Linked DNA regions of Homo sapiens: regions 1, 2 and 3 are each linked to region 4. The links come from fine-mapping of genetic effects on gene expression. A gene starts in region 4. Each other region holds a variant in brackets. All regions are shown on one strand. Distances are between the middles of the regions. Region 1 has its middle 39 kb from the start of SPPL2A. Region 2 overlaps TNFAIP8L3 (TNF alpha induced protein 8 like 3). Region 3 overlaps AP4E1 (adaptor related protein complex 4 subunit epsilon 1). Region 4 holds the start of AP4E1 (adaptor related protein complex 4 subunit epsilon 1).

Region 1 (8,141 bases), 100 kb after region 4:
TAACCTGTGATCTGTCCCCCAGCCCTAAGCCCTGAAATGCGTATCATCTGGCACAAAGACATCGTTTACATTTGTTGAATAGCTGCGTGCTTAGACTTGATCCGATCTTATTCACCACTTATACTGTAAGTCTCTGAGTGTACCCAACAGGAGTCTATTCCTCTTTTTTCAGAATTCAACAGTCTTTAATTATGTCGTGTCCAGTGTTGCTCATACTTGTTTCATGCATGTGAATCTCATCTACCTGGCTATAGTGTAAGCTTATAAGGACTGTCTGAGTCTGATAAATGTTTTACCTTTCCTAAAGTGCTGGTAGCATGACATTTACAGATGCTACTTGACTTACCTTGGGGTTACCACCTGCTAAACCCATCCAAGTTGAAATACCTCGAGTTGAAAATGCATTTAATACACCTAACCTACTGAACACCACAGCTTAGCCTGGCCTACTTTAAACGTTCTCTGAACATTTACATTAGCCTGTAGTCAGGCAAAATCATCTAACACAAAGCCTATTTTATCATAAAGTGTTGACTATCTCAAGTAATTTATTGAATACTGTACATTACTTCAAAATTGTAGTGGTTTCGTACCATCATAAAGTTGAAAAATCGGAAGTCAAACCATCATAAGTAGGGGACGGTCTGTACTTAGCGATCAATTGCCTAAAAGGTTTTTTGACACTGTATTAGGAGATATGATCATATTCCTGCTACTCTGATTCCCCTGGAATCTTGGGTAGGAAAATGTTTGAATTCCTTAGGCTACTCTAAACAGTTCAAAGCCCTGAGAGTCTCTTCCTCTACAACTACTTGTTGCTAATGAAGCTTTTGCCTGTTGATTGAAAGAGTCAGACCTACAGTGAAAGCATTAACCTATAGAATAGATGGTCTCTGGCATAGCTGATACTGTCAGTGCATCACCCACAGCTTCTCTGATCCTTTTTTTATTAGCTCTGGGGCCCATCTCCCACTTTCTGTTTGGTTTCCTTTCAATCAATCCACTTCACTATTATTCCCCGAAACCCAGAATTGTCCCAAGGGAACCATAGCCATTGCCTGAGTAGTGTCTGAGTATGAAAGCAAAACTTATTTGCCTCAAAGCTAGATAAGCCTGAAGGTATGACTTATGCTCCAGAGCTCTCCACAGGATCAGGCTGAGGCCAGACATCATCTGAAATTGTACCTTTGCTTGGCTTCTTTCCCCCTTCCCTATCTTACTCCTCATTCTCTTCTTAAATTAGTGAGGCAATTAGGATCTGTACTTAATAGTGTCTGGGTTGTAGCATAAAAGTAATGAAAAAAAAAAGCTTTGTGTTCCATGATTTTAAATGTTACAGTTTAATAAGTCTTTGTTATTCCCTCAGGATGTGTATCTTTGGAACTCACAACAAGCAATATAAACCATCAACAAAACCAGACCTCAGGAGTCTTTCTGCCCTACATTTTAGAAGGACACATTCTGCCCTGAGCAGGATGATAGGAATAAAGAAACAGCACTTTGGGAGGCCGAGGCAGGCAGATCACTTGAGGTCAGCAGTTTGAGACCAGCCTGGCCAACATGGTGAAACTCCGTCTGTACTAAAAATACAAAAATTAGCCGCATGTGGCAGCGCACACCTGTAATCCCAGTCACTCGGGAGCCTGACGCACAAGAATTGCTTGAACCCAGGAGGTGGAGGCTGCAGTGAGCCGAGATTGCACCACTGCACTCCAGCCTGTGTGACAGAGTGAGATCCTGTCTCGAAAGAGAGAGAGAGGAAGGGAGGGAGGGAGGGAGGGAGGAAGGAAGGAAGGAAGGAAGGAAGGAAGGAAGGAAGGAAGGAAGGAAGAAAAGGAAGGACAACAAACAATAAGAACTGACCAAATATTTAAATATTTCTTTTTCTTTTCTTTTCTTTTTTTTTTTTTTTGAGACAGTCTTACTCTGTCACCCAGGCTGGAGTGCAGTGGTGCAATCTTGGCTCACTGCAACCTCCACCTCCCGGATTCAAGCAATTCTCCTGCCTCAGCCTCCCAAAGTAGCTGGGATTACAGGCACACGCTGCCACGCCTGGCTAATTTTTGTATTTTTAGTAGAGACGGGGTTTCACCATGTTGGTCAGGCTGGTCTTGAACTCCTGACCTTGTGATCTGCCTGCCTCAACCTCCCAAAGTGCTGGGATTACAGGTGTGAGCCACTGCACCCGGCCCTGACCAAATATTTCACAATCAATTCTAATTTATTTACAGATGACATTTATCTATTTCCACTTTTGACAGTGCTTTTCTGATGAGCATCTTAGTGGCTTTTTGGAATTAAATAATGCAAAATGAGTTCGCTAATCCCTTAGTGCTGTCCAGCATACAGTCCACATTTCAATAAAATGCTGCATGATCACTTTATAGAAATGCATCCCCTAATGGCTCCAATTCCCCTCTTACTATATCCCTTGTAATACTTTGGATTCTCAAAAACAAATCTCAGGATCTATTCTAATGAATGGAATACTTACATAACACCCTTTGGCCAGCAATTTCACAAATTTGATTTTTAAAATTTATTGGCTGGGCGTTGTGGCTCACGCCAGTAATCCTAGCACTTTGGGAGCCGAGGTGGGTGGATTACCTGAGGTTGAGAGTTCAAGACCAGCCTGGCCGACATGGTGAAACCCTGTCTCTACTATAAATACAAAAAATAAGCCGGGTGCAGTGGCTTGTGACTGTAATCCCAGCTACTCAGGAGGCTGAGAGAGCAGAATCGCTTGAACCTGGAAGGCAGAGGTTGTGGTGAGCCGAGATTGCGCCACTGCACTCCAGCCTGGACGACAGAGCAAGACTTCATCTTAAATAAATAAATAAATAAAACAAAAATAAAATGTCTTTAAAACTCTTAGATGTGGTAGATGCTGGTGGATGGTGAAAAGAGCACAAGCCTTGAAGTAAGACAGCTCTGGAAATGAATTCTAGTTCTTCTCCTTATTTTATGGCCTTAAGCAAGTTGTTTGATCTTCCTGAGCTTCAGTTTAATTTCCTTAACAAAACCGTTATGAATAAATGAATGGGCCAAGCGCGGTGGCTCACGCCTGTAATCCCAGCACTTTGGGAGGCCAAGGCGGGCGGATCACTTGAGATCAGGAATTTGAGACCAGCCTGGCCAATATGATGAAACCCTGTCTCTACTAAAAGTACAAAAAAATTAGCTGGGCGTGGTGGCGTATACCTGTAGTCCCAGCTACTCTGGAGGCTGAGGCAGGAGAATCGCTTGAACCCAGGAAGCGGAGGTTGCAGTGAGCCAAGATCATGCCATCGCACTCCAGCCTGGGCAACAGAGTGAGACTCCATCTCAAAAAACAAACAAAAACAAAAAACAAAAATTAGGCCAGGCATGGTGGCTCATGCCTGTAATCCCAGCACTTTGGGAGGCCGAGGCAGGTGGATCATCTGAGATCAGGAGTTCAAGACCAACCTGGCCAACATGGTGAAACTCCATCTCTGCTAAAATAAATACAAAAATTAGCCAGGGGTGGTGGCAGGCACCTGTAATCCCAGCTACTCAGGAGGCTGAGGCGGGAGAATTGCTTGAACTCAGGAGGCAGAGGTTGCAGTGAGCCGAGATCGCACCATTGTGCTCCAGCCTGGGCAACAAGAGCAAAACTTTGTCTCAAAAAAAAAAATTAGCCAGGTGTAGTGGTGCATGCCTGTAATCCCAGCTACTTGGGAGACTGAGGCAGGAGAATCACTTGAACGCAGGAGGCAAAGATTGCAGTGAGCCGAGATCGTGCCATTGCACTCCAGCCTAGACGACAGAGTGAGACTTCATCTCAAAAATAAAAAGAAAATGAAAAAAAGAAATGAATGAGATAATATGTATCTGTTGGGGGGGAACTGAGATGTTAATCTGTGTTTTGCTCAGGCTGCTGTAGGTATTTTTGCCTCACTCATCTGAAGAAAGTAGCCCTCTGCTTCAGGGAATGGTTAATAGCCCTAATGTCGCAGGGCCAAAATTAAAAGTTGCCTGACACTTAGAATACAACCTTCTATCTAGTCTTGGAGGTGATATTGCTGGATTATTGGAGGTGGCAGGAGGCACCAAGGGTTGGGAGAAGAAGTAGACCAATACTGGAAATAAAGTTATTTGGGGACTATCTCCCCAAGTTTAGGAGAAAGTGCTTATAGGTTTCAAGAAAATCAGGGACATGTGTGCTCCCACACAGTACTTGGGTCCAAGGCCTCTGATCGTGATAGCTGACTTGGCAGTGTGCCGCACTGCAGGGGGCAAGAAGGGTTGGTCACTAGACTTCAAGTCTTCCAATTTTAGTATACACCTCTGGCTCAACCTGTGCTCAAAAGTAGAGGAATCGCCAGGCATGGTGGCTCAAGCCTGTAATCCCAGCACTTTGGGAGGCTGAGGAGGGCAGATCACGAGGTCAGGAGATCGAGACCAGCCTGGCCAACATGGTGAAACCCTGTCTCTACTAAAGACACAAAAAATTAGCCAGGCATGGTGGTGCACACCTGTAATCCCAGCTACTTGGGAGGCTGAGGCAAGAGAATCGCTTGGACCCAGGAGGCAGAGGTTGCAGTGAGCCAAGATTGCAACACTGCGCTCCAATCTGGGCAACAGGGTGAGACTTCGTCTCAAAAAAAAAAAAAAAAAAA[CAAG/G]TAGAGGAATCACCTATCCACAAGGACAGAACCACCTGTACACCTAGGAGAGATGAGCTCTTGTCCTGGGTCCCACACTTTAGAGAGCCCTACTCTGGCCCTCCATGGGATTGTGCCCCTCTTTATGGGAGAAGAGGTCCACAAGGGGCATGTCCACCTGGAGCCCACACCTCACCCTTGTAGACCGTGCTTCATCTAAATGGGACCCCAGAATTCCCAGCCCAAATGGCCTGAACTATTTCCAGGTCCTGAGCCAGTCTCTTTCCAGGATTTACATTCCTGAAGGCAGCCATGCCTCTGTGTACACGCCTTCACATGAAGGACAGTTAAAAGGTGACTTTTTGGCAGGAATGGGGATTGGTGAACAGAGCTTGGATGTGTAAGCTGGTCTACACACACATGCATGCAAGTTCCTTTATTGTCCTGAACAGAGCTGGGATGGGAAGTGAAAGAGGGGAAGTGTAAGAAGGAAAAAACGCCAAATATACAGGAAAAACAAACTATTTTTTTCTATCCTCACACCACTCTCAATACATCATGTCTGTCACCAGATGTGTGGGGTTTTGTTCCCATACTAAGCCACTCTCCAATTCTCTATGGACACCAACTGGGAATTAAACTCACTTCTGACACTATCTAGTGGGAGTCAGTACAGATTCCAAAGATTAAGGGCTCAGTCCCACAAGACTGCCCCCACATCAACTACCAATCACAAGTCCAGGTTGCCACCTGTGCTTCTGGCAGACTGTCTATAAACCAGAGGTTCTTATGACCTCCTCCTTAGGCTCAATCATTTGCTAGAATGGCTCACAGAACTCAGGGAAACACTTTACTTACATTTACCCATCTATCATAAAAGATACAACTCAGGAACAGCCAAACAAAAGAGATGCATAGGGCAAAGTATGTGGTGAGGGGCATGCAGCTTCCATACCCTCTCTGGGTATACTGCCCTCCCAGCATGTCCACACATTCCCCAGCCTGGAAGCTCTCTGAATACTGTTCTCCTGAGTCTTTATAGAGGCCTCATTATATAGGCATGACTGAATAAATCACTGGCCATTGGTATCAACTCAATGTTTAGCCTTCTCTCCTGCCTGGAGGTCAGGGGATGGGGCTGAATGTTCCAACCCTGTAATCACCTGGATGGTTCCTCTGCAACCAGCCCCCATCCTTAAGCTATCTAGGGGCCACTGAGAGATGCCTCATTAGAACAAAACACTGCAATCACCCAGGAAATGAAGCTCTGTGTAGGAAAAGGAAGAAGACCCAATATATATTTCTTATTATTAATCACAATATCATCAGAGGCCAAAGCTAGGGCCTAGGGCCAGCTTTTCTTACACCTGCACATTCAGATGCAGAAGCCCAAGAAGTCCTCAAATTCTAAATTTGAACAAGGACTTCCAGCTTGTTATGAAAATATATTTGTCAAGACAGAATGACAGAACCTATTTAAGAGGTTGTCAGCTTGATTTATAACTTTCTTTTTTTTTTTTTTTTTTGAGGCGGAGTTTTGCTCTGTCGCCCACGCTGGAGTGCAGTGGCGCAATCGCGGCTCACTGCAAGCTCCGCCTCCCGGGTTCACGCCATTCTCCTGCCTCAGCCTCCCCAGTAGCTGGGACTACAGGCGCCTGCCACCACGCCTGGCTAATTTTTTGTATTTTTAGTAGAGACGGGGTTTCACCACTTTAGCCAGGATGGTCTCGATCTCCTGACCTCGTGATCCGCCCTCCTCGGCCTCCCAAAGTGCTGGGATTACAGGTGTGAGCCACCGCACCTGGCCTGATTTATAACTTTCAAATATTTAATATAAACTTCCATTTGTATTCTCATCCTAGACCCTGAAAATATTAGAAGTGGGCCAGCCAAGAAACCACAGGACTAGGATCAACACCCAGCAGTGGTAGCCAGTGTGGTCTGAAGACCAGAGGGCTCACCTCTGAATATTCTGGAATGTGTAGGACCCTGGGAAGGTGAAGATACCCTAGGAAATGCCCCCCTCCTCAAAGTAAACATGACAAAACCCAGATTTCCCATCTCCCTTGACCAATGTGGTACAGAGCCAGATTTAACTTCATTTAGAATAAAAATGGGCAAAGACTTTTGTCTGTCCTGTTCACTGCTTTCTCCCTCCATAGCACTTAGAACAGTACCAATATACTTTTTTTCTTTCTTTCTTTCCGTTTTTTTAGAGACAGGGTCTCAGCATGTTGCCCAGTTTGGTGTTGAACTCCTGGCCTCAAGCGATCCTCCTGCCTCAGCCTCCTAAAGTTCTGGGATTACAGGCATGAGCTACCACGTCTGGCCCCAATATACTTTTTTTTTTTTTTTTTTTGAAGCAGAGTCTCGCTCTGTTGCCCAGGCTAGAGTGCAGTGGCATGATTTTGGCTCACTGCAACTTCCACCTCCTGGGGTTGAAGCAATTCTCCTGCCTCAACCTCCCAAGTAGCTGGGATTATAGGTATGCGCCACCACACTCAACTAATTTTTTTATTTTTAGTAGAAACGGAGTTTCACCATGTTGGCCAGGCTGGTCTCGAACTCCTGACCTCAAGTGATCTGCCTGCCTCGGCCTCCCAAAGTGCTGGGATTACAGGTACGAGCTACCGTGCCTGGCCCCAATATACTTTTATTGGATTAATGAATTCTTGCTCCCAGTGTGAGGGACCAAACTCTTGCCTGCCACATGTGTAAGCTCCTGTTTTTTGTTGTTGTTTGTTTTTTTGTTTTTTTGAGACAGAGTCTCACTCTGTCGCCCAGGCTGGAATGCAGTGGTGTGATCTCGGCTCACCGCAACCTCCACCTCCCAGCCTCAAGCGATTTTCCTGCCTCAGCCTCCCGAGTAGCTGGGATTACAGGCACCCGCCACCACACCCTGCTAATTTTTGTATTTTTAGTAGAGACAGTATTTTGCCATGTTGGCCAGGCTGGTCTCAAACTCCTGACCTGAGGTGATCCACCCACCCCAGCCTCCCAAAGTACTGGGATTACAGGCATGAGCCACTGCTCCCGGCCAAGCTCCTGGTTTTGTGCTACCACATATTAGGTGTCAGTGTCAGGTACTTTATTTTATTTTATTATTTTATTTTATTTTAGAGACAGGGTCTCACTATGTTGCCCAGGCTGGACCCAAACTCCTGGGTTCAAGTGATCCTCCCACCTCAGCCTCCTAAGTAGCTGGGGCTACAGGTGCTCACCACTGCCAGGCACGTTTTCTTTGTGCTGAACACTATATGATACTTATTTGTATCTAACTTGTCAGATGAATCTAGAATACTCTGTTTATTTACTAAATTATTTTAGCACCTGTGGACTGTCTGCTAGGCCCAGACTACTGGCTAGGTCTTGCCTGCCAGGTTCTCTTGCTTACTATCATCATAAGGAAATGACATCCTACTTTCTGATGGAGCCCCTATCTATTAAAAACTCAGTTTCTTGGGTCCTGTATCTGAAACCACTTCTGTTTCACCCACAGCTTTGGGGCTCTAGACTTTC
Region 2 (8,141 bases), 170 kb before region 4:
GCTATGTACTATAAATAGCCCCAATTTATAGAACAGAAAACCAAACACAGAGAGGTTAAGTAACCTGCTCAGGGTTGCACAGCTTGTCAGTAGAAATGAAGCCAGTCTAACTCCAGAGACTCTTCTCTTGCACCAGGTAGACTACGTAATTAGATTCACGGATGCCACCAGGCTGTCTTGCATCCCCCACACAGCTCCCACGGTTCCCAGAACCCTAACCCTTAGGCTCCCTCTGTTAGGTGAGGGCATTCTGCCTCCACAAAGGCCTGCTTTAAGCTGCAGACATTCCCTGCATTAGCCTATAAACAAAATGGGGAAGGACTGGCTGACTCCAGATCCAGATCAGGGGATGGTAAAGGGCGATCTGTGAGGGAAGATGGGAGAGTTAGCACAAAGCCACTGCTAGGCAGAAGGCCCTAGAAGGACGCTCCAGCCGTGGGCTTCTTCTGGATCACATGGGCCTGGTGAGAGAGGAGAGAAGAAGGTTTGAAAAGCAGAGTTAAGAGAGATACCAAAGTCAAATACACCCTTTTTCAAAGTGTGCTTAAGCTGGGTCCTAAGCCCTTTTTTTCACCCCAGCATTTAGAATCATTTCAGATATACAATCCCCAGGACATGGTGACCAGCAGGACTTGAGGAGAGAAAATTCAAAAGGTGAGAGTGCAACATAGTGAAAAGAACTTGACATTCAGAGCTGGATGACTCAGGTCTGTGTTTCAAGCATTGTCGCTTAGTTATTGCTTGTCAGTAACATTATTTTCTGACCAAAAAAGTGCAAGCTCATGGTAGAATATGTGAAAACAGTACAAGGAAGAAAATTAGATTGAGCCCTAAGAGAAGACTGCACTATTCCAAGAAGGTGGTCCAAAAGCAATTTGAAAAAGATGTGAGAGCTTTATTTAGGGAGAGAGGAGGGTTTAAAAAGAATGAGAGTCCTGTTTCTGAAATGTTGACCTGGGATGCTAAAAACATTTTGTTCCACTGTCAGGCAGTGTTAGAACCAGAACTGGAGGCCAGATCCCATGGCTTCTTTGTGTTTACCCCAAAACATGTAATTAAAAAAAAAAAAAAAAGAATCGGAGCTATTCCAGGTATTGAGATATCAAAAGGACTTTTGCTGTTTTTCCTTCTGACACCTTCTACTGTGTTCTTGCCACTCCCTCCCATCACCTGCATTTCCTTTCTTAGGTTTCTCCATCCTGGGCCCATTTGCCACAGGTCAGACCAGCACAGGCCCACGCTAGCACGTTGCCCAGGGGCCTCCTTCCCTTGGGTCAGGCCCACTTCTCTTTCTTAGTCAGAAGAGCCCTCCACAAAGCCCTCAGAAGATTAATGCATTTTTTTTTAATACTTGAGAGGCATTTGGTAGGTTTTACAGATGCCCAGTGACAATTGCAAAGGTTAATTTACTTTGAGCTTAAATAGCTACCAGCTTCAAGAAAAGTTTATTGGCCACTAGTTCTCCAATTACATTTTATCTTTCTTTAGATTGATTTTTTTTTTTATTGTAAAGAAACTGGCATGTTTGTTCATCCATGTTTGGTCTCTCTACCTTTAGGATTTAACTTCATAATTCGCTGAGTCAAACAACGCAGGCAGAGCTAAATTTATACAGGGTCAACTTTTAGAGAGCCCACAGCAGTATCTGGTAGGTATCAAACCTGAATTTTTGTGACTCTATTTTTCTTTGTTTCTAACTTCTCTGTGTATAATCCTGGTTTCTCTGTACCTTCTCAGTTGCTCCTCCTGCATCCCTCATTAATACCTTTTTCCTAACTATGTCCCTTAAGATGGAGCTCTTGCCTTGCTTTTTTCTGACAAAATACTTTATTAGAAAAGACCATCCATTCTTATAACAATAGCTGTAAGCTTTTGGGAAGCTAAAGGCTCCCAAAGTTGTACTCTAGCCCAGTCTTCTTTCCTGAGCAAGAATCCTGTCTTCTAAAGGCCCCGGACCCCTCCTCCTCACTGTTTAGGAGACACCCCAACACACCCACTCCAGGCCATCACCTTTCCCTCACTTTTTCCCAACTCTGCTGGTGGCCTTGACAGCCACCGAGTCACTCGAAGTTAAAAGACTGTGAAATCATAGAACAGTGAAAACTCCTCCACACATGTTCTCATAGCAAAACCATGACATGGATAAAGCAGGTATTATCATTCCTAGTTTACAGATGAAGAAACAGATGCAGAGAGATTAAATTATCCCAATCACAAAGTAAATGGCAGATTTTTGCTATTTAAAACTGGCCAGGGCGGGGGCAGAAACAAACCTAAATAAACAACTTGAATATTCAGTCAAATATTTATGGAATGATTAAATACATAATGACATTTCCACACAGTGGGATATTATTCAGATGTTAAGGAAAGTTAATTTGAAGAACATTTGATGATATAGGGAAATGTTCACATTATAACATTGTCAAAGAAGGCTCAATAATCTGTGATCCCTGTTTTTCTGTATGTACGTATATACATAAATGTGCATACACACACACACACACACACCCCTATACATCTACCCCTTTGTATATGGAGAGGGGGAGAAATCTCCCCTCACAGTCACACACGTAAACACTTGAGATTTTTTGTTAATGCTCGAGCAAAATAAACCACTCTGTGATGAGTGCATAGGTAATTTTAATTGTCTTCTTTGTAGTCTTCCAGATTTGTCTTCAGTGAGTACATGCAGCTTTCAGCTGGTAATTTGCTTTTATAAACAATAGCCAAGTGAGCTGCAGTGCCTGTTCCCCAGCTCATCCTCCTGCAGGCTTGTCCCAGGCCCCTCCGTCCTCTCCCTTGAAATTTGCTCTTCCATCAATTCCCTGTGTTCCAGTCCTCTGTGGCCCCCCTCACTGGCTCCGCCCAGCCCCCTGCCTGGGGTGATCCAGCCTTCTGCCCTGTTCACCCCCTGCCCTAGCCTCAGCCCTTGCTTTCTCTGGTGCCTCCACCCCCATCACCACCTCCTGCTCTGAGCCCACCTGGCCTAGCCTTTGTGGGCCTCCATGCCATGAACAGGGTCAGAGCTTGTAAATATGAGGCCTACAGACTGGCCAAGGACACTGCAGCATCCCAGTCTAAACGCACCCGTGGGTGAGCCTGTGGACTCAGCCATCTTGGCTTTCTTGAAACTCAGCGTCGCTGCTGCTCGCTGGCTGGCAGGGGGTCCACTTGGCAGCTCTGACCCACATGCCCTCTGCAACCCTTCCTCTGTCCTTGACCTCTATTCCAGATATGAGTGACATTCACTTCCCACATTTTCATTTACCTATACTAATTTTGTGTTTTTATTACTTTTTAAATTAGAGGGGGATACAACGACATTTAAAAGCCTGTTGTAACGGGATTGTTAGCTTTTAGGAGGTATTGGTCTGCCACCACCACCGTCAGTCCATCGTTCCAAAAAAATTTATTATTGAGGAGTGGTGTGATATTAAATATAATGTGAATCTATTTCTGAAGGAATTAGACTGAAATTTAATTGAAGATTCCTTGTGCATCTTGAAGCTAAAAATAAGAGATCATACGGTGGCCCCAGAATCCCTTACTCCCCTCTAGCCTCCCAAGCAGAGGTAGCCCAGTCAGGAGGCTTCTAGAAAAGGAAGTGCCCACCATTTAGATTCACATTTAACAGAATTTTTAACCCAGTTTTAAATTAGCCCCAATCACCCTTAATAGTTGGTATTCCCCATCAGCCAGGATTTTGTCTATCTTTATTTACTTTCTTGGTTTATATTATGAAAAATGATTTATCCTTACTCCTTTTCAGGTATAAAATTATACAGTCAGGTGCTGCATAATGATATTTTGGACGTGATAGTAGTCCCTAGGCTTACAATGGAGCTAAAAATTCCTTGCACCTGATGATGTTTTGACGATCTTGACCCTTTGTCGGCAGAGACTAATGTATGTGTTTTTCTTAGTTTTTAACAAAAAAGTTTAAAAAGTAAAAGAAAAAAATTAATAGAAAAAAGCTTATAGAATAAAGATATAAAGGAAAAAATAATTTTTGTACAGCTATACAATGTGCTTGTGTTTTAAGCTAAGTGTTACAACAAAAGTCAAAAAGTTTTTAAAAATTTAAAGTTTATAAAGTAAAAAAGTTTCAGTAAGCTAAGGGTAATTTATCACTGAAGAAAGAAAAATGTTTTTTATAAGATTAATGTAGCCTAGGTGTACAGTGTTGATAAAGTCTATAGTAGTGTACAGTTATGTCCTGGGCCTCCACATTCACTCTCCACTCATTCACTGACTCACCTGGAACAACTTCCAGTCCTGCAAGCTCTATTCATGCTAAGTGCCTTAGAGAAGTAGACCATTTTTTATCTTTTATACTGCATTTTTACTGTACCTTATACATGTTTAGATATACAAATACCATTGTGTTACAGGTGCCTACAGTATTCAGTACAGTAACATACGGTACAAGTTTGTAGCCTAGGAGCAAAATGCTGTACCATATAGCCTAGGTGGTAGTGGGCTTGACCATCTAGGTTTGTATAAGTACACCGTATGATGTTCACCCAATGGCAAAATCCCCTAATGCATTTCTGAGAACGTAGCCCCATCAAGTCACTCATGACTCTATGTTGACTATGCTTTTTCACGCTTCCAGAAAAGTCCCCTCATTAAAAAAAAAAAAAAAA[AT/T]TCACTCTTTCTTAGTTTTCAAGTTGAAAGCAGGAAAGTTCCCTTATTTAGTGCCTTTATGAAGGAGCCATCTTTTCTTATTATTTGCAAGTGAGTGACTATGACCACTGTGATTTTAAAAGGAGAGATCAGGGAATAAGAGAGGGAGAATGATTGAGACAGGAGCAAATTGTTGGACAAAGGGAGCATTGTGCCCAAAATGATGGATAGCTCATCCTAAGACCAGCAAGCGTGGTAAGCACAAGGGCTGCTACCAACCACCTCTACCCAGGATTTCTCCTCATCCTGGGAGGGAGGTCAGTGATGTGCCGAGACTCAGGGAATGGATGAGGAGGCCTGTTTCCACCCATTCTTAGTGTTTTGTTTTGTTTTCTGTTGTGTTGTTGTTAAAAAACAAACTATGTAAAAAGTAGCTCTGCCAAATTGTCATCACTCAATGAGAGTGGCTGAGGTCTGAGCAGCATGTGAAGAGGGTGGAGGTTGGTGCTAAGACAGCACACAGGTGGAATCAAGGCCAGGTGAGGGCCAAGAGCAGCTGGTCAGTGGTTCAGGGAGTCATGGGGCACATGACAGGAGTGCTGTAGGACAAGTCCATTCTCTCATGAGTCACTGAGTCCCGTCATGGCTGCCCCAGCTTTCTTGAGCCCCTCCACCTGGAGGGTAGCCTCTTTTAAGCTCAAAGAATCTAAAACTTCCAGAAAAGCTGGGCCCCCCATGGGCCCTACCCATCTTGTCCACACTCCAGAAGCTTAATATCTCCTCCTGACTTCACCCTGTCCTCCCCATCTCCCTGGTCCCAGCTCTCTGCCTCACCTGAGATGTCTTCCCTTCCCTAGCCCATCTCAGGCCCAGATGCTGCTCTCCGTTTCCACTGCCTTGGGCCCCCACCCACCCCCACAAGCCCTCCTGAGTGTTAGAGGGACTAAGGCAGTGAAAAAGCCAAGTCTTGTGGCCATTCCTGGAGTTAAGTCACGAAGCAAAAATCTTAAAAGCTTCCAGAGAGAAAAAAAACAGGCCCTTACCAATGTATACTAGTTTTCTAAATAGCAACACTGAACTTTAGACAACAATGATGCCCTGCCTTTGAATTCTCAAGGCAAATGATTTCCAACATAGAGCTCTAGACCAAGGCAAACCATCCATCAAGGGTGTGGTTGGAATAAAGTCATTGTATGATATGTTAGATACCAAAAAATGACTTTATCATGTCCTCTTCCTGAGATAGCTGCTTACTCAGGCGGCAGCCAACTGAGGCCCCCAGGCCAAATCTGGCCTGCCACCTGTTTTTGTGTTTCCATTTTTAAGTACACCTTACATGGTTATTTACACTTTACATGGTTATTTAAGTACCTATACAATATCCTCTATTTTGCCTTTTTCTCCTTTACTCTGTGGCTCTTTAAGGCGGTTTGCCGAAGTCTGTGCTAGACCAAGTGCTCCACTGAACCGAGGACCAAATTAAGAAAAAGGAGTTGTGAGATCCAAGAAACAGGAGATGGACACAGGAGAGAAGGGGTAAAGAGTGAAGGGAGGACCCAGGATGACTACGTGTGTCAGGCATCAAGAGAAACATGCCCAGACTTGAGTTGGGGGACAGAGGGCTGCCAGAGATATCTCCAAGAAAAAAAAAAAGTGGAAGCAGTTGATTAGTTGATGTGTTTGAACCTATTGAGAAGAACTTTCTATTCTGCTACGAACTTTAGGAATGAATTTGCACTAGACAGATAAAAAACTAACCAGGAGATTAAAAAATAGTGTTTAACTCCTGGGAAAACAAGATGAATAAGAAAGGAAATGCAGGCATGGAAGTTATAGGACACTACATGACTTGGCTATGAATGATAGCTAAATCATAGTAATGTCATCGCTGAAGTTTGATTTAACCAAATGTTGAAAGAGAAGCAAATTGGAAGGTGGAAGGAGAAATGAATGGGAAAGAAAGCTAAGTTTTCACCTTCTGTAGTAGACAGTTAAAAGCAAATAAAATCAAGAATTAACAGTGTAAGCATGTAATTTAAATATAGAGAGGTAATTATTCATTGAAACAGCTAAAATAGTTTAAACTATTTTGTCTGTAAGTAGCTAGCATCAGAGGTGTGCTGGGGATGCTACATCATGTTATAAGCCTCCCTTGTGGAATGACTTTTCTTTTTTTTCTTTCTTTCTTTTTTTTTTTTTTTTTTTTTTTTGAGACAAAGTCTTGCTCTGTCACCCAGGCTGGAGTGCAGAGTGCAGTGGCATGATCATAGCTCACTGCAGCCTCGAACTCCTAGCCTCAAGTGAACCTCCCACATTGGCCTCCAAAGTGCTGAGATTACAGGCATGAGCCACCATGCTCAGTCTGATTTGACTTTTTAAATAATTGTACCCTGTATTACTTTGAAAATAATTTTCTTAATAAAAAGAAAAGAAGTGACAGAGCAACCTGGTGAGTGATGTGGCAACCATTCCCAGGTGAGAGTGTCTCAGGCCCCTGGTTGGAGGACATGCCAGCTCTCATTATCATTATTGTTCCTGACATGAGTGTGAATGCATTTCAATAAAATGTCATGAGTGAGAGCCATGCATTCAAGCAATGAACATTCTCTGTTTCAGTCCCTAGCTACAGTTGCCCAGATAAATAAGCCTTGGTCCCTGCCCTCAAGGAGTTCACAGACCAGTGGGTGATAAAATTCCTCATCCAGCTAGTGGATGACTGATTGCTCCACAAGGTGATAAGTGACAGGGCAGGTGATTGCAAAAAGAAATTGCCTAGAAGTCAGAAGTCATTCAAATGGAGCCCTGGAAGCTAAGCAGGAATTGGGCTGGGAAGAGAGTAAGAGGTCAGTGTCCCAGCACAGGGACAGAAAATGCAAAAGTGCAAGGGGACCCAGGCCTGGTGCAGGTGAGACCTGCCTGTGGCCTGGAGCTGGGAGCTTAGGGTTTGTAGAGGGTGAAGAGAAGACAGATGTCAGTTCAGTGGCCTGGTGTGCCATGCTAAAGAGTTGTCTGGGCTGTCTTGAAGGTTATGGGAATCCCCTCAAGGCCTTTTCTAGAGGAGCAGCATCATCGAAGCCTGCTGTCAGCCTGGTGTGGAAAATAGAACAGTAGCTGGGGTAGAGAGATGAGCAAGGAGACAGACAAGCATTCGGGGAAGAAACCATGAGGGTCTGTACTGAGGTAGCGAAAGAGAGGCAGAGGAAGGCAGGTGCATTTAAAGATGTTACAGAAGCTGAATAGACAGTCGGAGGCCTCGTTAGATATGGGAGGTGAGGGAGAGAAATAAGGCAAGGATGGTCCCCAGGTTCTTGTCTGGACACAGGCCGGTGGCAGAGTCACGTATCATACAAGGAGAGGACTTCAGGAGGGTTGGAGAAAGGAGCTGAGAGAAATGTTGAATGTGGAGGGGGAGGGATCAGGCAAGCAGTTATGGATGGGAGAGTCCCCTGGACTGGGGAACATGCGGGGCAGGGGTCAGTCCATGGGACAGGGGTGGCATCTCACACTTGGGA
Region 3 (8,000 bases), 79 kb before region 4:
AAATATACAATGTTTATTTGGCAATTATATCTCAATAACACTGGAGTTAAAAAAAAAAAAAAAAAAGAACTATGTGTCCTTGGCACTTGACTTATTTAAGCATCTCTGTCATGGTCCAAAATGGCATTTTTAAAAAATCATTTCTACTACAAGATGAGTTGATCATGAAATGAACAAAAAGGAAGACTCAGAAATATTTCTACTAATTATTATTAGTATTGAAATTGTTGGAATCATGATCAATGTGATTTTGAGCCCAAAACAAAACAAAAACAGGTAATTACACTTCATACTGAGTGAAGAATTAATGCTATTAAGAAGTAAGTAGCTACAGGAAAATCTGAATGTTAATAAAAAATGCCCTAAAGGGAATTGGTTCATTCCTTCTCAATGATTTTTACTGCTGAGTATCCCTTTACAAATATCTTCATTTCCCCCTTTCTTCCTCCAGGTTCTAAAAGAGTTTTCTAAAGAAAAAAAAAAGTTATATAATAAACCTCTTAGACAAAAATTGGTTGTACTTGCCATAAGCAGATCCCAAGTGGTCATGGGAACCACTAAAATAACTCCTACCATTTCTAGAATAGAATTCTCAAAAGAAGCACCTCTAGGGAATTCATGAATACCCACAATAGTATTATAGTATCTGTATACTCCCTTTAACCAAAATATTACCTTTATTTACAAAAAAAGAGAGAACAAGTCCCTAAATTTTACTAATCCATGATTTAAATAGTAGTTTAACAACAACAACAAAAGGCCGATGTGGAGGACAATGGGCTGCTCCATCCGGATCTCTCTTCAATGAAGGACTGTTGACCAGCTGTTGGGAATGCTGTCATCTCTCAGCCCCTTCAGGGATTGCCTGAGCTGCAGAGGGCTACTTCACGCAAGATCACACCCCTTCCAAGGCAGCCTACATCCAGTGATGGATGAATGGAAGTATAAAGTCCTTGCCATCCATCTCGGTCCAACTCAGCACAACTCTGAAGGGTCATTCCAGCTCCAGAGCTCCCCATGGGGTCAGCAGAGGTTGTCACCGGCAATGCATTGCATCTTAACTTCTGCCCAAACCTGCTTCTTTTTCCTTCCTTCTATAGATGTTGATCCCAACGACACTCCTAATTATTCTGCATACTAAATGCCATCACAGAATGTGCTTCCCAGGGAACTCAATCCACAACTGGCAAAAAGGGGCAGGAGGTACAAAAGGAGCCTAAAAGGAGCCTCAAACTATTTTAAAGATTTTTCTTATTTTCTTATTTATTTCATCTGCATACATACTTATGATCGACACAAATATTCTGTTAAGCATACATACAGACCATCTAAAAAGTGGGAAAATATGGCCAGGTGCAGTAGCTCACACCTGTAATGCCAGCACTGACGCTGAGGCAGGCGGATCACTTGAGCCCAGGAGTTCAAAACCAGCCTGGCCAACTTGGCAAAACACTGCCTCTACTAAAAACATAAAAATTAGCAGGGCATGGTGGCAGGCGTCTGTAATCCCGGCTTTGAATGTGTACTCCACATTCAAAGTCTGAGGCATGAGAACCTGGGAGAACCCACTAGAACCCAGGAAGCGGAGGATGCAGTGAGCCAAGATCATGTCACTGCACTCCAGTCTGGGTGACAGAATGAGACTTGTCTCAAATAATAATAATAATAATAATAATAATAATAAATTAAATAAATAATAAAAAATGGGAAAATACATAAGAAAGCAACATAAGGCCATTTCATATAAAAAATATGCTTCTTAATTATATGAAACATTAGAAAAATAATATTTTTAAACATGAGTCATCTTTGCCCGGATTTTGACAATACTATTATATAATACATGGTTTTCTACGGTGTGCCCTTGTATTGTTTTTATTCAGACCATTCAAACATAGATGTAAATTCTGACCAAGTAACTAACCTTCAAAAGACTAGGGATGTACTTTAACTCAGCTCTAGGAATTCCCATTTGAGATAGGGTGCTGCCAGTTAAGAAATTATAAATTAGACTTGCTACTACTTTATTCTCAGGTTGCCAGGGACTGTAAAAGAGCAACTGTCTTCCCTCTAAGATGATTCACCTTGCCAATTACTATGTTCCTCTTCTGAAATAATGTGTGAGCTGAGGTCCTCTTTGGAAACAAATTTTAAATTCATCCCTTATCTTCCATTTCACAATACTGCAGGATATATTATATAATTCCTTAGCAGTTTTGCCAAATGTCATTTCTCTGAGGGTAGTAGATGTATATGTATGGCATTTACAAGGCCCTGTCACACCCCCCAGATCCTAGTTCAGTACTATAGTAGTAGATGCTGTCACCTGTTGTGCAGGTAAAAGTGTGTAAGTTCCTCCCTGGGTTTGAAGGGTTCCTGTCTCTTTCCCTTGTCCCTTTGGTCCCTGTTTGGGACACTTAATTGCTGTCACCTCCATCATCAAATGCCCACAAACAATATTTGCTCCCCATGCTTGGAGTATCAAAATTAAATATCTGGGAAAGAAAATAAGGAGGTTAACAGAGCAGGAAAAAAAAAAAAGATAAGAAAAAGAATTTGAACTCATGCCATTTCATTCAACATATTCTACATTCCTCATGATCTATTATTAGTATCTTTCTTCTGATAAATACTTGTAACCATTTCATTGAACAACAGACAAATGTAAGGATGAACATAAAATAAGATGACTGATTTCTTAATAAATACAGAAGAACTCAAAATTCAAATGTCATCCTTTAAAGTTGTCACTTTTGAGATTTTATCACATTTATTCCAACAATGCGGCCATTACTTAAAACATTTTTAACTCTATTAGATGCAGCTTCTTCCCAAACAAGAAAGCCATTTCCTTACTTTACTGTCGCATCAGAATATTGATCAAAATTATACAGATTGATCACAAATATTATCTGGTAAACTCACCTCTTGGGTAATGAAGACAATGATGGTAATGACAATCATTATTAATAACAGCAACTACCATTTATCAATCACTTACTATGAACTGGGCTGTACTATGTACTTACAAATGTCATCTCATTTTATTCACTTAATTATGTTTCTAAAGGTAACTAATTATGTTTCCAAAATCAAAGTATACCTAACAAGGATGAAATTCGGCTCCAAATAAGACATTTTAGCAAATGCTCACCAATTTTCAAGGTGGCTGGAAAGTAACTCTGAAAGCATTTTCAGCAAAGTATACAGCTTCCATAGGTGACTACGGATGGTCCCTGACTTACAATAGTTCAATTTAATGATTTTTTGGCTTTACAACGGTGTGAAAGCAATAGAGTTTCACAGAAACCATACTTCAAATTTTGAACTTTTATCTTTTCCCAGGCTAGCAATATGTGATAGGATATTCTCTTGCAATGCAGAGATAATAATGAGCTAATACAATAATAAATAGGCTGGGCACGGTGGCTCATACTTGTAATCCCAGCACTTTGGGAGGCCGAGGTGGGTGGAGCACTTGAGGCCAGTAGTTTGA[G/A]ACCAGCCTGGCCAACATGGTGAAACCCATCTCTACTAAAAATACAAAAAATTAGCCGGGTATGGTGGCAGGAGCCTGTAATCCCAGCTACTCGGAAGGCTGAGGCAGGAGAATTGCCTGAGCCCAGAAGGCAGAGGTTGCAGTGAATCGAGATCATGCCACTGCACTCCAGCCTAGGCAATAAGAGTGAAATTGTGTCTCAAAAAAATAATAACAATAAAATAAAATAATAAACAATAATGGGCCAATGATCAGCAGAACTGAGTTCTAGACATACATCTGCTGTTTGGTAGATCACTTCTGACTTACGATATTTTCAATTTATAATGGGTTTATCAGAATGTAACCCCATCATAAGTTTAGGGGCATCTGGCCTTCACTGGGTGACCAACTATATGGCTTCCTCAGGTGAAATCAATCACCTTATTTTATGTTCACCTCTATATCTATCAATGTTCCAATGAGACGGTTACAAGATATATTTATCAGAAGAATGAGGAATGTAGAATGATATGTTAAACATCAGCCTGGATGTATAAATTCTAATATGCTTCTAAATATATATATATAATATGTAGCAATAACACATATTATTACTACGTATAAAGCTTGTACATATTTTATGCTGTCTTGGAAGGTAGATAAGCTCTTAAAGAACATACTGTACAATATAAATACCTTAAGAGCAATAAATAGAAACCACTGAAACAACAGCCCATACAATTTAGCTTTTAAAAACCTTTCTAAACCATTATATTAAAACACATTGTCACAAGTGTGTCTCTCCCTTTGAAAATTATGTGAAAACCTAGTTGGAAGTAAAGCACTCCTCAGCAAATGTAAAAACAGAAATTATAACAAACTGTCTCTCAGATCACAGTGCAATCAAACTAGAACTCAGGATTAAGAAACTCACTCAAAACCGCTCAACTACATGGAAACTGAACAATCTGCTCCTGAATGACTACTGGGTACATAACGAAATGAAGGCAGAAATAAAGATGTTCTTTGAAACCAATAAGAACAAAGACACAACATACCAGAATCTCTGGGACACATTTAAAGTAGTGTGTAGAGGGAAATTTATAGCACTAAATGCCCACAAGAGAAAGCAGGAAAGATCTAAAATTGACACCCTAACATCACAATTAAAAGAACTAGAGAAGCAAGAGCAAACACATTCAAAAGCTGGCAGAAGGCAAGAAATAACTAAGATCAGAGCAGAGCTGAAGGAAATAGAGACACAAAAAACCCTTCAAAAAATCAGTGAATCCAGGAGCTGGTTTTTTGAAAAGATCAACAAAATTGATAGACCGCTAGCAAGACTAATAAAAAAAGAGAAGAATCAAATAGATGCAATAAAAAATGATAAAGGGGATATCACCACCGATCCCACAGAAATACAAACTATCATCAGAGAATACTATAAACACCTCTACGCAAATAAACTAGAAAATCTAGAAGAAATGGATAAATTCCTGGACACATACAGCCTCCCAAGGCTAAACCAGGAAGAAGTTGAATCTCTGAGTAGACCAATAACAGGCTCTGAAATTGAGGCAATAATTAATAGCTTACCAACCAAAAAAAGTCCAGGACCAGACGGATTCACAGCTGAATTCTACCAGAGGTACAAGGAGGAGCTAGTACCATTCCTTCTGAAACTATTCCAATCAATAGAAAAAGAGGGAATCCTCCCTAACTCATTTTATGAGGCCAGCATCATCCTGATACCAAAGCCTAGCAGAGACACAACCAAAAAAGAGAATTTTAGACCAATATCCCTGATGAACATCGATGCAAAAATCCTCAATAAAATACTGGCAAACCAAATCCAGCAGCACATCAAAAAGATTATCCACCATGATCAAGTGGGCTTCATCCCTGGGATGCAAGGCTGGTTCAATATACACAAATCAATAAACGTAATCCAGCATATAAACAGAACCAAAGACAAAAACCACATGATTATCTCAATAGATGCAGAAAAGGCCTTTGACAAAATTCAACAGCGCTTCATGCTAAAAACTCTCAATAAATTAGGTATTGATGGGACGTATCTCAAAATAATAAGAGCTATTTATGACAAACCCACAGCCAATATCATACTGAATGGGCAAAAACTGGAAGCATTCCCTTTGAAAAGTGGCACAAGACAGGGATGCCCTCTCTCACCACTCCTATTCAACACAGTGTTGGAAGTTCTGGCCAGGGCAATCAGGCAGGAGAAAGAAATAAAAGGTATTCAATCAGGAAAAGAGGAAGTCAAATTGTCCCTGTTTGCAGATGACATGATTGTATATCTAGAAAACCCCACAGTCTCAGCCCAAAATCTCCTTAAGCTGATAAGCAACTTCAGCAAAGTCTCAGGATACAAAATCAATGTGCAAAAATCACAAGCATTCTTATACACCAATAACAGACAGAGAGCCAAATCATGAGTGAACTCCCATTCACAATTGCTTCAAAGAGAATAAAATACCTAGGAATCCAACTTACAAGCAATGTGAAGGACCTCTTCAAGCAGAACTACAAACCACTGCTCAAAGAAATAAATGAGGATACAAACAAATGGAAGAACATTCCATGCTCATGGGTAGGAAGAATCAATATTGTGAAAATGGCCATATTGCCCAAGGTAATTTATAGATTCAATGCCATCCCCATCAAGCTACCAATGACTGTCTTCACAGAATTGGAAAAAACTACTTTAAAGTTCATATGGAATCAAAAAAGAGCCCGCATTGCCAAGTCAATCCTAAGCCAAAAGAACAAAGCTGGAGGCATCACTCTACCTGACTTCAAGCTACACTACAAGACTACAGTAACCAAAACAGCATGGTACTGGTACCAAAACAGAGATATAGACCAATGGAACAGAACAGAGCCCTCAGAAATAATACCACACATCTACAACCATCTGATCTTTGACAAACCTGACAAAAACAAGAAATGGGGAAAGGATTCCCTATTTAATAAATGGTGCTGGGAAAACTGGCTAGCCACATGTAGAAAGCTGAAACTGGATCCCTTCCTTACACCTTATACAAAAATTAATTCAAGATGGGATTAAAGACTTAAATGTTAGACCTAAAACCATAAAAATCCTAGAAGAAAACCTAGGCAATACCATTCAGGACGTAGGCATGGGCAAAGACTTCATGTCTAAAACACCAAAAGCAATGGCAACAAAAGCCAAAATTGACAAATGGGATCTAATTAAACGAAAGAGCTTCTGCACAGCAAAAGAAACTAACATCAGAGTGAACAGGCAACCTACAGAATGGGAAAAAATTTTTGCAATCTACTCATCTGACAAAGGGCTAATATCCAGAATCTACAAAGAACTCAAACAAATTTACAAGAAAAAAAACAAACAACCCCATCAAAAAGTGGGTGAAGGATATGAACAGACACTTCTCAAAAGAAGACATTTATGCAGCCAAAACACACATGAAAAAATGCTCGTCATCACTGGCTATCAGAGGAATGCAAATCAAAACCACAATGAGATACCATCTCACACCAGTTAGAATGGTGATCATTAAAAAGTCAGGAAACAACAGGTGCTGGAGAGGATGTGGAGAAATAGGAACACTTTTACACTGTTGGTGGGACTGTAAACTAGTTCAACCATTGTGGAAGACAGTGTGGTGATTCCTCAAGGATCTAGAACTAGAAATACCATTTGACCCAGCAATCCCATTACTGGGTATATACCCAAAGGAGTATAAATCATGCTGCTATAAAGACACATGCACACGTATGTTTACTGCGGCACTATTCACAATAGCAAAGACTTGGAACCAACCCAAATGTCCATCAATGATAGACTGGATTAAGAAAATGTGGCACATATACACCATGGAATACTATGCAGCCATAAAAAAGGATGAGTTCATGTCCTTTGTAGGGACACGGATGAAGCTGGAAACCATCATTCTCAGCAAACTATCGCAAGGACAAAAAACCAAACACTGCATGTTCTCACTCATAGGTGGGAATTGAACATTGAGAACACTTGGACACAGGAAGGGGAACATCACACACCAGGGCCTGTTGTGGGGTGGGGGGAGGGGGAAGGGATAGTATTAGGAGATATACCTAATGTAAATGACGAGTTAATGGGTGCAGCACACCAACATGGCACACATGTATACATATGTAACAAACCTGCACGTTGTGAACCTGTACCCTAGAACTTAAAGTATAATTAAAAAAAAAGAAAATTATGTGAAAACCACTGAAACAATAGACCTCTTGAAAGTTATCCTAAAATAAGCAAATAATGACCATGATGATATGAGGCAGGAGCAGAAGGCAAATGGAACGCTAAAAGACATTTAAGCACTCCCATAACCTCAATTTTAATAAGAAATGAACTTACTCTTTCAGTCCTGTCTCAGCACTATTCCCAGATACATCTGAACCAAGAGAAATGCCAGCAGGAGACTGTCGTCCAGTGAAGCCAGATGAAGAAAAGGAGAGTCCATATGGTTCAAAA
Region 4 (8,132 bases):
ATCGGTTGAATCCAGGAGGCAGAGGTTGCAGTGAGCTGAGATCACGCCACGCCACTGCACTCCAGCTTGGGCAACAGAGCGAGACTCCGTCTCAAAAAAAAAAAAAAAAAATCAAACTGAGTTTTAATCTAGCTATGCTGGGACAGCCCCACAGTGGCCTGCATAATAATGAATGACCATTCATTAAATAGTTGCTGAATATTGTTTGAAAAATCAGATTATGTAGAACAAACTTTAAAAACAACTAGGTCTTAAATAATAAAATTAGATATACCTACAATATATTAATTCAGGTCTGAAAATATCATGTTGAAATCCCAACCTTTTCCAAATGCATAACATTAAAAACATCAGATCAGCACTAGGGTCCCAAGAGTATCTCCACATTTATGTAATCATCATCACATTAGCCCTGACTTCACATAGGCAAATCTTGTTCTGGTGCAAACCAGTCAACAATAAAAGGCTAAAGTTAACATCTGAGTTGCTACCAACTATAATTCATTTTGACTATGATAAATCAAATTTTAGCAACCGATCATCAGTTAGATGCCACTATTGAGTCCACAGTGACTAGATTTCAAATTCAAATGTGTTGGCACTGACTATGCAAACCTACCAGTGTTGTAGTAGGAGCAGAAACAGTCGCTTTCAGACTACTCAGTTCCTGCTGGATTAATTTTTCTTCTTCCTGAGAAAGTGAAAATATTTAAATGCTTGATTAACTGTCTTTTAAAACTGTAACAGCATTTATCTAAACGGAAAAATATAATTTACAATACTTTTAATTTAAAAGAAACATTATTTTAAAGGAGAGTTACAAATACTATCTGCTTACGATCTATCTAAAGGCATTTCTCCAAACCTCAGAACCATCCCTGGAGAGAATAAATATTTCCAGGCTAACCCATCCTTCCTCTTTTCTTTACTCAGTTACTTCCCCTTAATGGTAGAATAGCAGAAAATGTTTTTTTTTAAAACTAAAGGTGGAAGCCGGGCACAACAGCTCATGCCTGTAATCCCAGCACTTTGGGAGGCCAAGGCGAGTGAATCACTTGAGGTCAGCAGTTTGAGACCAGCCTGGCCAACATGGCAAAACCCCGTCCCTACTAAAAATACAAACATTAGCTGGGGGTCCTGTAATCCCAGATACTCGAGAGGCTGAGGCAGGGGCAGGAGAATCGCTTGAACCCGGGAAGTGAATGTTGCAGTGAGCCGAGATCGTACCACTGCACTCCAGCCTGGGTAACAGAGCAAGACTCCATCTAAAAAAAAAAAAAAAAAAAAAATTAAAGGTGGAGAGAGAGTAGAAATTCTCCATGTATTGGCCCAAGAAAAGAGTCTCATCTCACATCTTCCCCTTAGAAGTAAAAAGTCTTCATGGAATTAAGAAACAGGGTAAGAAAGCAGAAACAGAAATAGGTCTTTTTCCCTTAAACTACATTCTTCTTCCCTGTCTTTTCCTCATTCCCCAAATCCTTTCCATAACTTCCTATCTCAGACACATACCAATGTGGTCACTCCTACTGTCTGCATTGTATGTTATCTCCCTAAGCACTTAAAAAATTGGCCCCATTTTTTTTTGGCTAATATCATGCTACCTTTAAATTACACACTGAATTACATGTTCATCAGATGGCTATTCAAAAGCCACTAGTGACGTACTGATACACGTGGATGCCTATCTACAGTTTCAAACTGCTATTTAAGACCAAAAATAACTTTTTAAAAAATTTTATTGAGGATCCCTTAAAAATTAGCAAAGGACAAAAACCTTAAGAAAAACAACATTATTAAGGCCACAAATGGCCAGGCGTGGTGGCTCACGCCTGTAATCCCAGCACTTTGGGAGGCCAAGGCCAAGGCAGGTGGATTACCTGAGGTCAGGAGTTCAAGACCAGCCTGGCCAACATGGCGAAACCCTGTCTCTACTAAAAATATAAAAATTAGCCGGGTATGGTGACGTGTGCCTGTAATCCCAGCTACCAGGGAGGCTGAGGCAGAAGAATCACTTGAACCCAGGAAGCAGAAGTTGCAGTGAGCCAAGATTGCACCACTGCATTCCAGCCTGGGCGACAGAGTGAGACTCCATCTCAAAAACAAAACAAAACAAGACAAGCCCACAAGTAATGATTCTGGAATGTGAAGCAGGTTCTCTCCGGATAGCATCAACTTATTAGAGCTGCCAAAAAAATATTTTTTTTAAACCTTCAGAGCACTTTCTTTTCTGTCTTTCCTTCTCTTTTAGCACTTCTATTGCATTGTAGTCATGCTTATACTTGTCTTAAGCCCAAAACGAATGACTAATTCCTTGGGAAAAGGGAATGTGTTTAATTCTATTTTCCTGTGTCTAACACATAACCTTGTTCCATAAACATCTGTTGAACAAATAATGACATTAACACGTGCTCTTTTTAAGATATAAACTCCTTGTAGCTGTGAATCGGTATACTACACAATCCGTGCAACCATCGAGCGCCTGTGGGGGCCCGGCGCGGTGGCTCATGCCTGTAATCCCAGCACTTTGGGAGGCCGAAGTGAGCGAACACTTGAGGTCAGTTCAAGACCAGCCTGCCCAACATGGTGAAATCCTGTCTCTACTAAAAATACAAAAATTAGCCGGGCGTAGTGGCATACGCCTATAATCCCAGCTACTTGGGAGGCTGAGGCAGGAGAATCGCTTGAACCCGGGAGGCAGACGCTCCAGTGAGCCAAGATCGCACCATCGCACTCCAGCCTGGGCGACAGAGCGAGACTCCGTCATTAAAAATTTAAAAATTTTAAGGCCGGGCAGGGTAGCTCACGCACGTAATCCCAACACTTTGGGACGCCAAGGCGGGCGGATCGCGAGGTCAGGAGATCGAGACCATCCTCGCTAACACGGTGAAACCCCGTCTCTACGAAAAGTACAAAAAATTAGCCAGGCAGTGGCGGGCACTTGTAGTCCCAGCTACTCGGGAAGCTGAGGCAGGAGAATGGCGTGAACCCGGAAGGCGGAGCTTGTAGTGAGCCCAGATCGCGCCACTGCACTCCAGCCTGCGCGACAGAGCGAGACTCCGTCTCAAAAAAAAACAAAAATTAAAATTTTTAAAACCTTAAGGCTCCAGCGAGCCGAGATCGAGATCGCACCATTGCACTCCAGCCTGGGCGACAGAGAGAGACTCCGTCAATAAAAATTTAAAAATTTTAAAAGTTTAAGAATTTTTATAACTGCTCATTTTCAAAGCCCACTTGAGGCAGAGACTTAGCAAATTTTACATTTTGAGAGAACTGTGCTTTTTCTTTGCCCAACACGTTGTTGTAACCCAAGAACCTCAAGCTCCCCAAAGATATTCAACAAGAGGCTCACAGGATCTCTTCAGGTATGCGACATCTGAACTGTTGTTCAGTTGAAGGCACCGGGGGAGAGAAGGAAACTGAGTAGGGAAAAAAAACTTTGTGGAAGGTAAATAATGTCTGACACTTCCATCGCACTAGGTATTTTCACACGCTTGACATCTCACCCAATCCTCAAAACAAACAAAAAACCTATGAATTATGTATCAGTACTTTTCCACCACAACGTTGAGAAAACACACGGAGGCTCAGAGGTTACAGAGATGTGCCCCCGATCAAAGAGTCAGTGTCAGAACTAACTGTGGAAACTCGGCTTCCCTGCTGTCAGTCCCAGCAGGAAAGTGAAGCTTCCAGGCAGACGAAAGGACGAACCGACACAGCAGCCCCTGAGCCCCGCCGGAGGGCTAACCCCAGAGGCCCTGAAGTCTCGCCGCCCGGCCAGGGCCTCCTGGCGCGGGGGCCTCACTCCGATGTCCCTGAGCTCCCGGGCCGGCGGGCACCTACGTGCTTGGAGGTGAGGGCTGTGATGCCGCGGACAAGGCTGCCCAGCCTCGAGGAGAAGGACGCCTTGGCGGCCGCGGGCCCACCACCGGGCTGGTTCTGCAGAAAGAGTCCCGGCAGCGCCGTCAGCGTCTTCTCCACTATGTCGCTCATCGCCGCCGCCGCCCGCGATGCCGCCGCCGCCCGCGATCCCGTAGCCGCCCGGCTTCATGCCCGGCCGCCGCTGCCGGCCCGGCCTCCGTAGGCACTTCCTGTTTTTTGAATAAGAAATCTTTATTGGCGTCCCACCTGAACAAGTTCAGCGTCGTTCTCGCGAGAGGCCACCAGAGGGCGCAAGAGACCGCGGGGGTGGAAAAGGCCGCTCGCTCGAGATTGCGCGCGTAAGTAGACCTCCTTTCTCGCGACGGGGTAGCGGTTCCGGAATCCCCCAGAACCGTGAGTCCTCCTGAGGAAGCCGTCGGGGGCCTGGCCCTGTTAGGCACTGTCTCCCAGAGTCCCCCTTTCCCACTAGCCGCCTCCGCGTAGCCCGAGACCGCGTCAGGAGTTGCGTCTTCCTGGCTGCGCCTTTTTCGGGACGTCCCCGCGCCGTCCGCCGCCTCTCACTGTCCCCGGAGCGCGCGCCACCCGCCCGCTTCCCACAGGCGGTTTCACGCGGGTCCCCGGCGCCGCGCGCGGCTCCGGCCCTGGCGACTCTTGGGACACCCGAGTAGTTGCGTGATAGCGGGGCTGTCCTGAGGATTCGGCGTGCCAGGTTGAGAGCCCGTCGCGTGCCGGGGACTCGCGGCCACTGTCGCTTCCCGTCCGCCCCTCTTCTCCTGGGATTTGGGGAGGTGGGCGGGAAAGAGAACTGGTCGGCGGCCACCCTTGCCGACTCCTCCTCAGCAGGTCGCAGTTGAAAGGTCATCCTTCTAGAGCCCACTCCCCTGGCCCGGCGGGCAAGGATAGGTCTCCAAGTCCCACCCTCTCACAGCGCTCGGTTCTGTTCCACTTTAGAACAGGTCGCAGTTGCCACTACGTAAACAGCTCCCCATAGAGAGAGTATTTTATTCATTCCGATTGCTCCGTCTTTTATCTAGAACAGAGTCTGGTACAATGGCTCTCGAAATGTGGTCTGGTGACCTCAGGGTCGCTGAGACCCTTCTAGGGAATTCACAAAGTCAAAACAACATTGATAACGTTTCTTACGTGTTATTTGCCGTTTTTACCCTCATTCTGTTGGAAATGTACAGAGTTTTCAAGCGGCTAGATGACGATTGACTAGCTGGTAAAATGTATCCTGGAGTATCCTTGTGTTTTCTAGAATTTTCTAAGGTAGTAGGTTTAGGGCATAAATACGTGCGTTTTCAGAGATTAATGCAATTTGCTCTCAGTACTCCTAGTGTGTTTCTAGGAGGTAGGTTAGGTAGGTGGTGATAGCCTCCCTTCAAGGGGAACAAACTTGCTAAATAAATAGAACAAACCAGCCCATAGTGTACAAACCACATCCGAGGCTCCTGGTTAGAAAATTTTGCAGCAAAGAGGTACGAGAGCAGAAGGGAAAATCCCCAAACTCTCACAAGCGCAGAAACCCATGATCAGTGTCGTTGGGCTGAATTATACTCATTATAATAGTAAAAAAAAAAAAAAAAAAAAAACACCACTCCTGGGTGAAGATTTAAGATACTAATAAGACATGCAGTGTATGTACTAGCATATACAACCACAGCGCACATGGCGACAGAAAACCAGAGAACGTGCTTAATAGCAGCACCCGTTCTCCCCGCTTCATGAATGATCCTGTGAGACTCCTACAAAGGGAGTTTCCCCAGTGTCAGTGCATGCTGTCTCACCTTTGAGCAGCCCGCTCTGATCAGCTGTGAGGGTGTACTTTCGCTTTGCAATAAACTCTTTTGCTTGCTTTTACTTTGGACTTCAAAATTATTTTGCACCGCGAAGTCCAGAACCTCAACCGGCCCACCAGCTACAGCTACACTTACAAGCTATCTTCGGTTATACCTGCTCTAATCTCTGTAACCTCCTTGTCACCTAATAAATGAGTTTTTTTGAAATCCTGAAGTTGTTTTAATACCTATATGGGAACATAAGAAAAAAGTTCAATTTGTTGGCTTGTCTCGCAAGAATATTTTTTAATATATTGAGAACATTTTAAAATATTTAAACTTTATCTAAAAGGGATACTCATTTATTCATTTAATTTTTTTTTTTTCAGAGTCTCGCTCTATCACCCAGACTGGAATGCAGTGGCACAATCTGGGTTCACTGCAGCCTCCTCCCCCTGGGTTCAAGCAATTCTCCTGCCTCAGCCTCCCGAGTAGCTGGGATTACAGGCGCCCGCCACCATGCCCGGCTAATTTTTGTATTTTTAGTAAACACAGAGTTTCACCATTTTGGCCAGGCTGGTCTCGAACTCCTGACCTCAGGTGATCCGCCCACCTCAGCCTCCCAAAGTGCTGGGATTACAAGCGCGAGCCACTGCGCCCAGCCAGAAAGGGATACTCTTTTAGAATTTAATTTTGTTATTTTATTATTATTTTTTGAGATGGTGTCTCGCTCTGTTGCCCAGGATGGAGTGCAGTGGTGTGATCTCGGCCCACTGCAACCTCCGCCTCCCAGGTTCAAGCAGTTCTCCTGCCTCAGCCTCCCGAGTAGCTGGGATTACAGGTGCGTGCCACCACACCCGGCTAATTTTTTGTATTTTTAGTAGAGATGTGGTTTCACCACGTTGGCCAGGATGGCCTCGGTCTCCTGACCTCATGATCTGCCCGCCTCAGCCACTCAAAGTGCTGGGATTACAGGTGTGAGCCACCACGCCCTGCCTAGAATTTAATATTTTGTCGTCCGGGCGCGGTGGTTTATGCCTATATTCTAGCACTTTGGGAGGCCAAGGCGGGCAGATTGTCTGAGCTCAGGAGTTCCAGACCAACCTGGCCAACATGGTGAAACCCCGTCTCTACTAAAAATACAAAATATTCGGACAGGCACGGTGGCTCCCACCTGTAATCACAGCACTTTGGGAGGCCAAGGTGCACAGACCACAAGGTCAGGATATCAAGACCAGCCTGGCCAACCTATGACTCTACTAAAAAAATACAGAAATTAGCCGGGCATGGTGGCGTGCGCCCGTAATCCCAGCTACTCGGGAGGCTGAGGCAGGAGAATTGCTGGGACCCGGGAGGCGGAGGTTGCAGTGAGCCGAGATTTCACCACTGCACTCCAGCGTGGGCGACAGAGCAAGACTCCACCTCAAAAAAAAAAAAATACAAAAAATTTAGCCGGGCATGGTGGCACACCTGTAGTCCCAACTACTTGGGAAGCTGAGGCAGGAGAATTGCTTGAACCTAGGAGGCGAAGGTTGCAGTGAGCCAAGATCGCACCACTGTACTCCAGCCTGGGTGACAGAGCAAGACTCTGTCTCCAAAAAAAAAAGGAATTTAATATTTTATCTTTAAATTAAATTTTGTTTTATGTATAGTTTTTTAATTTTAGGTTCTTCCATTGGCTTAAAAAGGGGATACTAGAAGATTCGCTTTCTAACCTTCCCGTCTGTAAAGATGCCGAAAAAGATGAAGCTGACATCAGTATCAGAATTCACTGACTCAGGGAAAGGGAGAAATCTGGTCGAAACTATAAATAACAAAGGAAAGTATGACAAAAGCTTCTTTCTTTCCCTTGGCATTAGAGATGTTAATCACTTGCCTTATTTTATGTCATTCAACAGAACATTTTCAAATACTATTATGGTGCCAATCAAGTTGAGGCATCATTTTCAGACCAGTCAGAATTTAAAAGAAAGGGAATTTAATACTTTCAACATAGAGATGATATGCTTTATAAAAGCCAAAGCTTTTGTATTACCATTTTCAAAGTAAAAATGAAAAACCTACTGAAGCATCTTACACATGAAATTATTATATTTCATTGATAGGAGAAGGACATGCAATAGCTAAAAGACTAATGAATGCCTGCTAGCTGATAATCAGTAAAAGAACTCATGGGAGTGCTACTTTCCAAAGATGCAATAACTCACCAAATTAGACATTTAGTTGCAGGCCAGGCGAGGTGGCTCATGCCTGTAATCCCTGAATTTTGGGAGGCCAAGGCAGGCGGATAACTTGAGATCAGGAGTTTGAGACCAACCTGGCCAATATGGTGAAACCCTGTCTCTACTAAAAATACAAAAAAAAAAAATTAGCTGGGCATGGTGGTACATGCCTGTAATCCCAGTTATTCGGGAGGCTGAGGCTGGAGAATCACTTGAACCTGGGAGGCAGAGGTTACAGTGAGCTGAGATGGTG

What was found. PIP is the estimated chance that this variant, and not a neighbour inherited with it, causes the effect.
Region 1: its variant is fine-mapped to the expression of AP4E1 in whole blood (INTERVAL, PIP above 0.99).
Region 2: its variant is fine-mapped to the expression of AP4E1 in monocytes (Quach 2016, PIP 0.95).
Region 3: its variant is fine-mapped to the expression of AP4E1 in whole blood (INTERVAL, PIP 0.90).

What each region holds. Positions count from the first base shown.
Region 1 is chr15:50,800,926-50,809,066 of GRCh38, reverse strand. No RefSeq gene overlaps it. Among named protein-coding and RNA genes, the nearest start is that of SPPL2A, 39 kb to the right of the region's middle. The variant CAAG/G (reference allele first, on the strand shown) is at 4,641.
Region 2 is chr15:51,078,554-51,086,694 of GRCh38, reverse strand. The region is part of intron 1 of TNFAIP8L3 (TNF alpha induced protein 8 like 3); the gene reads left to right. All of the region lies in intron 1 of MIR4713HG (MIR4713 host gene), which reads right to left. Among named protein-coding and RNA genes, the nearest start is that of TNFAIP8L3, 12 kb to the left of the region's middle. RefSeq lists an enhancer at 7,603-7,762. The variant AT/T (reference allele first, on the strand shown) is at 4,650.
Region 3 is chr15:50,984,029-50,992,028 of GRCh38, reverse strand. AP4E1 (adaptor related protein complex 4 subunit epsilon 1) reads right to left here. Exons shown (of 21, transcript NM_007347.5): 16 at 7,884-8,000. Among named protein-coding and RNA genes, the nearest start is that of MIR4713HG, 49 kb to the left of the region's middle. The variant G/A (reference allele first, on the strand shown) is at 3,497.
Region 4 is chr15:50,904,637-50,912,768 of GRCh38, reverse strand. It overlaps AP4E1 (adaptor related protein complex 4 subunit epsilon 1), which reads right to left and starts at 4,086. Exons shown (of 21, transcript NM_007347.5): 1 at 3,841-4,086; 2 at 620-691. The coding sequence starts at 3,990. RefSeq lists enhancers at 3,010-3,751, 3,798-3,967, 3,988-4,277, 3,752-4,493.